Linked DNA regions of Homo sapiens. The protein of the gene in region 1 purifies or fractionates together with the protein of each later gene. This does not show direct contact. Each region holds a gene or a part of one and is shown on either strand. Other genes may lie near its edges.

Region 1 (3,750 bases):
CTGAAAAATGTAGAATGGTGTTTAGAAGAAAATTGGAATCCCACTGTCCCTAGTGCCTGCTCCTATTAAATTTCAACCTTTTCATTTAATCCATGAATCCTATCAGCTTCATGTTCTTAGGGTTTTGCTTTTGGAGTTATCTTCTTTCTGTTCTATATAATTACTTTCTGTCCATCTGGATCATTCTTATTAATTAACATAGAAACCATAACAACAGTCAGGTTTATAACAAACGGCCAAAACACCCCCACCATGACCCACGCTTTCTCTAACTGCCACCCCATTTCTCTGCTCCTGGTGAGAGTTGAACTCAAAAAAGTTATTTGTTGTTTATACTTTCTCACCTCACATTGTCTTCTCAACCTATATAAGTAAGACTTTTGTCCCTAACATTATATTGAAATGGCTCTTATAAAGACCACCAATGTCCTACATCTCACCAGAGCTCTCAACAGTATTTACCTAGTCTTCACTAGTACTCAGCCCTTGAAAACCTTTTGCCCTAGGCTTCTGTGACACCTATACCTTCCTGGTTTTCCTCTTACTCACTCACCGTTCTTTCTCAGTCTTTTGCTAGCTTTTCCCTTTCAGACCTCTAAGTGTTGACATGCTTAAGGGATCAATCTTCTGGCTTTCCCTGTCTTCCCTCTCAGTGATGTAGTCTAATCCCATTGCTTTAATCTTTGTGCTTTAATCTTTGTGCATGTGACACCTAGATTTATGTCATCAGTTCAGACCACTCCCTTTCATTTCATATGCAGAACTATTTTCCCATGTGCTCCAAATTTGCTCTATCCCAGGCCTTTCCCCATTTAGGCTTAGGAGTTATCCTTGAATTCTTCTTGACTTTACTCTATTTTTAAATTGTTTGTTACCTCAGCTTAAAGGGATTCCTTAAAAAATTAAAATACACTATAAGAATTCATAATAGCAAGAGATTTTAGGTAATAAAATATAAATTTCAAATTTAGGCCATCATGGCCTAAGTTTCAAATTTAGTGCTGAGCCTGTAATCTCAGCCTTTGGGAGGCTAAGGCAGGAGGATCACTTCAGCCCAGGAATTTGAGACCAGCCTAGGAAGCATAGTGAGACCCCATCTCTACAAACAAAAAAATGAAAAAACTAGCTGGACATGGTGTTACACACCTGTAGTCCCAGCTACTTGGGGGTCTGAGTTGGGAGGATTGCTGAAGCCTGGGAGTTTGAGGCTGCAGTGAGCTGAGATCATGCCACTGCACACCAGCCTAGGTGACAGAGCAAGACCCTTCTCCAAAAAAATAAATAAATAAATAAATAAAAGAAACTTGGAAAATAACCTGGAAACATCTATTTTATATTATTGAGTAGATTATTTTTCCTTTTTCCTCATTTCTCATTGTTTTCTTTACGTTAGCCGGTTCTTCTTGATAGCAGTAGCATTCTTGCAGATCGTATTCTTCTCATGGACACATTCTTCCAGATTTTGATTTATCATGGTGAGGTAAGATTTCAATAGCATTTAAAGCTATGCATGTAAAGTCTTTTTACTTAGAAAGGTTTTCTTACTTCTAATTGTATGGCTAGTGTTTCATCTATGATAAACTTTGATTTCCATTTTTATAAAATAATAAAATATGATGCTGCCTACTATAAGGTTTTAGGCTTCAATTGCAGTTGACCCACATGTGATTATTTTATTCATTTGTCACACAATTGGATTTTGCGCAAAGCACAGTGTTGTGAAAGTAAGAACACTGACTGTACATAGACAAATGGCACTTTTGGGTTTTACCTGAAAACATTAAGGGGGGAAAAGTCAGCCTTTGTCAGTGGGCAGGCTTTCCTTTTACGTTATGCAATCATTATAAGTTATTATTAAGTGTTCTACATGATCTTGAAAACTCATTTAAAGCATACATGAATTAAAATTTGTAACTTCATTGGAATGGTAAATGATTACAGAGAGCAGAAGATTTTAGTAGCTATTAAGCTTTAATCCAGGTATTTAGCAGACCTTGATGCATTCCTGCAGTTACTCATTCAGCCAATTGTTAAGTGCTTCCTCTGGATGCTTTGGAAGATATAGATGTGTTCTTTTTTCACAGATCTGTTCTCAAACTTACAGTCTAGTGTTTTACTAAGTTCTGCAGATTTATTTTTTCAGTTGCTTTAATTGTAAATGATTTTAGATTTGCACTGTGACTGGGTGTGGTGGCTCACGCCTCTAATTCCAGCACTTTGGGAGGCCAAGGCAGGAGGATTACTTGAGCCCAGGAGTTCAGGACTAACCTGGGCATCATAGTGAGACCCTGTCTCTACAAAAAAATTTTTAGAAAAGATTTGTACTGTAATAGTAAAGACATTACTCAAAATATTCTTTGAAGTAGTACTACCCAGGACTTTTTTTTTTTTTTTTTTGAGACTCAGTCTTGCTCTTTCACCCAGGCTGGAGTGCAGTGGCGCTATCTTGGCTCACTGCAGCCTCTGCCTCCCGGGTTCCAGCGATTCTCCTGTCTCAGCCTTCTGGGTAGCTGGGATTACAGGCACATGCCACCACGCCCAGTTAATTTTTGCATTTTAGTAGAGACAGGTTTTCACCATGTTGGCCAGGCTGGTCTCGAACTCCTGACCTCGGGTGATCCGCCCGTGTTGGCTTCCCGAAGTGCTGGGATTATAGGCGTGAGCCATCGCGCCCGACCTACCCAGGAGTTTTAAAAGATTTAATTATTATTATTGTAAATTATTTTTAATTGATACCAGTTTCTAATGCCCTTTACTTGTTAAGAATAATACCTGTTTTAACTTCTTGCCTTTGTTAAAAAAAAAAAAAAAACCTGTAATACTGACAGGGCTTTTTTTTTTTTTTTTTTTTTTTTTGCTTTTTCTTTGTTTTATGGTGATTTTTACTTTTTCAAGTAGCTTGTTAAAGGAGAAATCAGAAATGCACATGATTGTTTTATACAGAGGTATAAAGCTATAAAAGAATGTGTTGACTGATTCAGCTAACTTAGAAAATAAACCAGGCATAAGTTTTTAGATGATTTAATTACATGGTGTTTAGAGCTACTTACCTATGGATTGATTCAATTGCTTTCACGTATCATAAGCTTAGGTAGATAGCTTTTAGCTAACATTCATTTGATAAGCATAGTGTTTTAAAAATTTTCTGACTTATGTAAGTATTCTTTCATTTTACTTTTAAAGGAGAAGAAATATTCTAATTTTATATTTATTAAGAATATTTTCTCTACTGAAATTGTAACTTTTAAAAAATTGAGGTAAATGGAATAATGGTCTATAATTTTTTTAGTTTCTAAAGATTATTTTCTTTGGAAAAATCTCAAGATTTTTGGATGGGCAAGAAATTTAAAGTAATTTCTTTAATTGTTTTAAAATTAGACCATAGCACAGTGGCGGAAGTCAGGATACCAGGATATGCCTGAGTATGAAAATTTCCGCCACCTTCTGCAAGCCCCAGTGGATGATGCACAGGAAATTCTTCACTCCAGATTTCCAATGCCAAGATACATTGACACTGAACATGGAGGCAGCCAGGTAAGTAGTGTTAATTTGTTTGTGTGTTTGTTTGTTGTTAGGTTTGCAGTGAGGTGTACCTGCTTGCCTTCTGATTTTAATAGATTGCTTCATAAAGCAGACAGAAAGGTAAGGAGATAGGTGGGGAAGGTATCAGTGCTTACTTTTTGCATTAGCTTTTGAGAGCAAAACAGTAAGATTATTGACTAGTTGCCTAAACCTGGCACTTTCCATCAT
Region 2 (3,750 bases), on another chromosome or scaffold:
TGGTTCATTCTTCATTTTGCCACAGGATTACTAACCCTGAAAACTCAGTTCTCAAGCTGTCAGTGGCCTCCTGTGGCACGGGAACCGTAGGCTGACGGGCCTGGCTCAGGACAGCCTGGCAGGAGGCACCTGCCTGCCCCGCTTCAGCCCCATTGGACACACAGCTCGCCTGCCTATCTCTGTGCATTGGCTCACGCTGTTTGGGCTTGCACGGACAGCACCTCTGTCTCATATGGTTGCAGTCCTATGGCCTTTGGTGCCTGGTTCAAGTGTAAACTCTTAGACAAAGATAGACCAAATCTCTTCTTTCCTCCACCCCTTTCCTGTCTTCCTGCCCCAGCCAAAGGAATCTTCCCCTTCCTGACTCTCGTAGCATTTTATAACTCAGCTACATATGAATTTGGTTTTGTGTGTATGTCTTTTCTTCCTTGTCAAATTCTAAGCTTGTTTTGGTGTATAGACCATGTCATGTATCTTTGCATCTCTACCACACATAGCAAGGTGCCACACACATGTAATTAGTACATGTTGGTTGAATTAATCTATGTCAGGTGACCTTAGGTCTTCTCTAACGCAGAGACTATTTATTTGTGTGCCTTTTATTATGTGTCTACTACCTGCCAGGTATTATATATATGTAATCTCATTTAGAAAGCAGAATTTCGCATTTTCTTTTTTTTTTTCCCCCTTAAGTGATGGTCGGTGAAACTAATGTGAAATGTTATAAAGGCAGAGATACTGGAATTGAAGGAAAAAGAATAATTATCTATGTGTTAGTTTGGGTCATCCAAAAAACAGATGCCAAGATAGGATTAAAAGTACAAGAGATTTACTGGGGGAAACACCTGCAAGGGAAAATGGGGCTGGGAGCTGGAGGCTGTTGGCAGAGTTGGCAGACCCCTGTGGAGGAGGAAAGGCCGGGGGAGCGGGGAAGTTTTCCACTGGAGTGTGGTGCTGAGAAAGTTTCAGCAAAGCCATTGGGGAGCCAGTGCTGCCCCTCAGACGAGTCCCTCCCATGCTCAGGCATTGGCTGGAAGCAGCAGGTGGGAAGGGTGGCCTCTGCATGAATGTGCTGATGGATTTTAGAGTGCAGCCACTCTGTCCCCTGCATTTGGAGAAATACATCTTCATGACTGCCACACCATAGAATCAACCAAGCTAAAAGTTCAAAGGTGGCTTGTGGCACACAGGCCCTTTAGCCAGTTAGGCAAAACGAGGGCCTGGGAAAGAGAATTCTTCCTCTCGTCGGCAGTTTGAATATTTGCAGTCTTAGCTTGGAATGGTCTTTCTGCACTAGAGGGAAACCTCCTTTAGTGCAGACCAGCCTAAAGCCAAGCCATTGCTGCCTGAGGAAGCTGCCATCTCTGGAGCACGGTGACATGCCACCACCCTGGACCTATTCCCATCCCCCGGAGCACTGTGGCATGTAGCCTCTTCGTGCCACTGCAAGGTCAGAAAGCACCTCTGGGCACACCTCCGTCTTTTGGGTCTGCCTCCCCACTAGACTGAGCATTGTGCATAGAAGCTACTTTTATTCTTTACATCCCAGTGGCTTACATGATAGATGCCAAGTAAAATTTCCAGTTTGTACTTTAAATTGTTTTTCTGGCACTGGAGATGGGCTTGCAGTGATCCCTCCATCCATGTAATGGCCCTGGGCTCAGTGGACCATCCAGAGTAGGCTTCTCCACCATGGAGCTGCCCCTCCTCAGGAGTCTGATGTGAGTGGCTCTTGATACTCATTCTCACTTCACTCACTCCATATCACAAGAGCCAAGGATTTCCCAGTACCAACATTTTCTTGGGCTGCTTTTGATGGTTTTTTTTTTCCCCCTTCCTGTCCTCTTTTTCCAACCCCAGAACAAACTGCCAGCGTTCCTGGTTGGTGTTGCTAACTCAGGTCACCCTGAGGCTGCCCTGTCTTTCTCTTGCTTGTTGTGAGCCCCTCCCTCTACGCCCATGTGCCCGAGGCTGTGCCGCTGCCTTGTGCAGGCACCCAGGGTTTATGCCAGTGATTTCCTGACACAAGCAGCAGCACAGAACGTGTGTGTCCCAGGTTTAGGTTTGGGAGGCCTGCCTGGAGAACAGCCATCCCAGGTTCTGGGAGCTTTCTCAATTTACTGTTTTATCCAAAGATGGGTTGGCCTTTCTCTGGACATAGTGAGCTTCCTTGGGCTAGTTCTTAAGCCTGAGACTAAAAGTTCTCACCATGAGTTATTAGGGAGGCCTGTAAAATGTAAAGGCCATGCGTTTTTTTTGCTCTGTTACCCAGGCTGGAGTGCAATGGTATGATCATGGCTCACTGCAGCCCTGAACTCCTTGGGCTCAAGCAATCCTCCTAACTCAGCCTCTGCATAGCTGTGACAACAGGTGTGTGCCACCACACCTAGCTAATTTTTAAATTTTTGTAGATACAGGGTCTCCCTATGTTGCCCAGGCTGGTCTCAAACTCCTAGGCTCACATGATCCTCCTGCCTCAGCCTCCCAAAGTGCTGGGATTACAGGTGTGAGCCACTGCACCCAGCCAAGGCCATGCACCTTTAAGTTCTTTACCTGGGCTTTACTCTAAGATGGGAGGCCTCAGAGTGAGAAAAGCTGCTAAGAAGTGGGAAGGAGCCTGTACCTCTGGTGATTAGGGATTTCTCTTTTCGTCCACCCCCATTCTCACCTCCACTGGAAGTAGACCTGTAAGAAAAATTAAAGCAGTTTAGAAAGGGTTGAAACTGTTTATTCACCCATCCCTGCCAAAATTTTCTGGAACATTCCTAGTTTCAGATGTTCCTTATATCTTAAAACAGCATAAGAACTGTTTTTTGTTTTTAAAAAAAAAATTTGTAGAGATAGAGTCTCACTGCGTTGCTCGGGCTGGTCTTGAACTCCTGGGCTCAAACCCTCCTCTTGCCTCAGCTTCCCAAAGTGCTGGGAATACAGGCATGAGTCACCATGCTTGGCAAGAACCGCTGGCTATAGACCATGACTTTTTTTTTTTTTTTTTTTTGAGACGGAGTCTCACTCTGTCACCCAGGCTGGAGTGCAGTGGCGCAATCTCAGCTCACTGCAACCTCTGCCTCCCAGGTGCAAACGATTGTCCTGCCTCAGCCTCCCTAGTAGCTGGGACTGTAGGCGTATGCCACCACCCTCAGCTGATTTTTGTATTTTTTGTAGAGATAGGGTTTCATCATGTTGGCCAGGCTGGTCTCGAACTCCTGACCTCAGGTGATCCACCCATCTCGGCCTCCCAAAGTGCTGGGATTACAGGCGTGAGCCACCACGCCCATCCTATATACCTCACCCAAGTCGTGTAAATAAAGCCTGAAACTTGGGAAGAGGAGGCTGGACTATTGAGGTCTTATTGAGGTTGCTGTGCAAATCAAGATGATCCCATTTCTAAGAAATGGCTAGTCTGGTATAGAAGCTAAGGATTTGTTTAGGAAAGCAGGAAGCTCTTGAATATGAATCCAAGCTCAGTGGAAATGGGCTGAGTTGAATTACATTTAGCAGGTGGCTGCTGCCGTTCTAGAGAGAAGAGACTTGGAGGGACCTCTGCCCTCACTACCAGGCAGACCTGGCTTGGCAGGGTGCCTTGAGCCTCACTGGAACAGCAGTTGGTTTTCCCAGAACTCACCCCAGAAGCCTGTGTCCTCTGATAGCACTGGCCAGTTAGGACAGGAGGCTTTGATTCCCAGAGAGAGCCAGCAGGACTCCACTCTCATCTATGCAAGCACAGGCTGAGGGTGGATGGCATTAAAG

The links. Proteins that work in one complex are often made in the same cells at the same time.
Region 2: the proteins of SEC23A (region 1) and TTC1 fractionate together in Homo sapiens (co-fractionation; 2 studies listed by BioGRID). This does not show direct contact.

What each region holds. Positions count from the first base shown.
Region 1 is NC_000014.9:39,040,516-39,044,265, reverse strand, and holds part of SEC23A (protein transport protein Sec23A), read left to right. Parts: intron 1-1,393; coding exon 1,394-1,480; intron 1,481-3,378; coding exon 3,379-3,534; intron 3,535-3,750.
Region 2 is NC_000005.10:160,060,989-160,064,738, forward strand, and holds part of TTC1 (tetratricopeptide repeat protein 1), read left to right. Parts: intron 1-2,553; exon of another isoform or gene 2,554-2,668; coding exon of another isoform or gene 2,669-2,685; intron 2,686-3,750.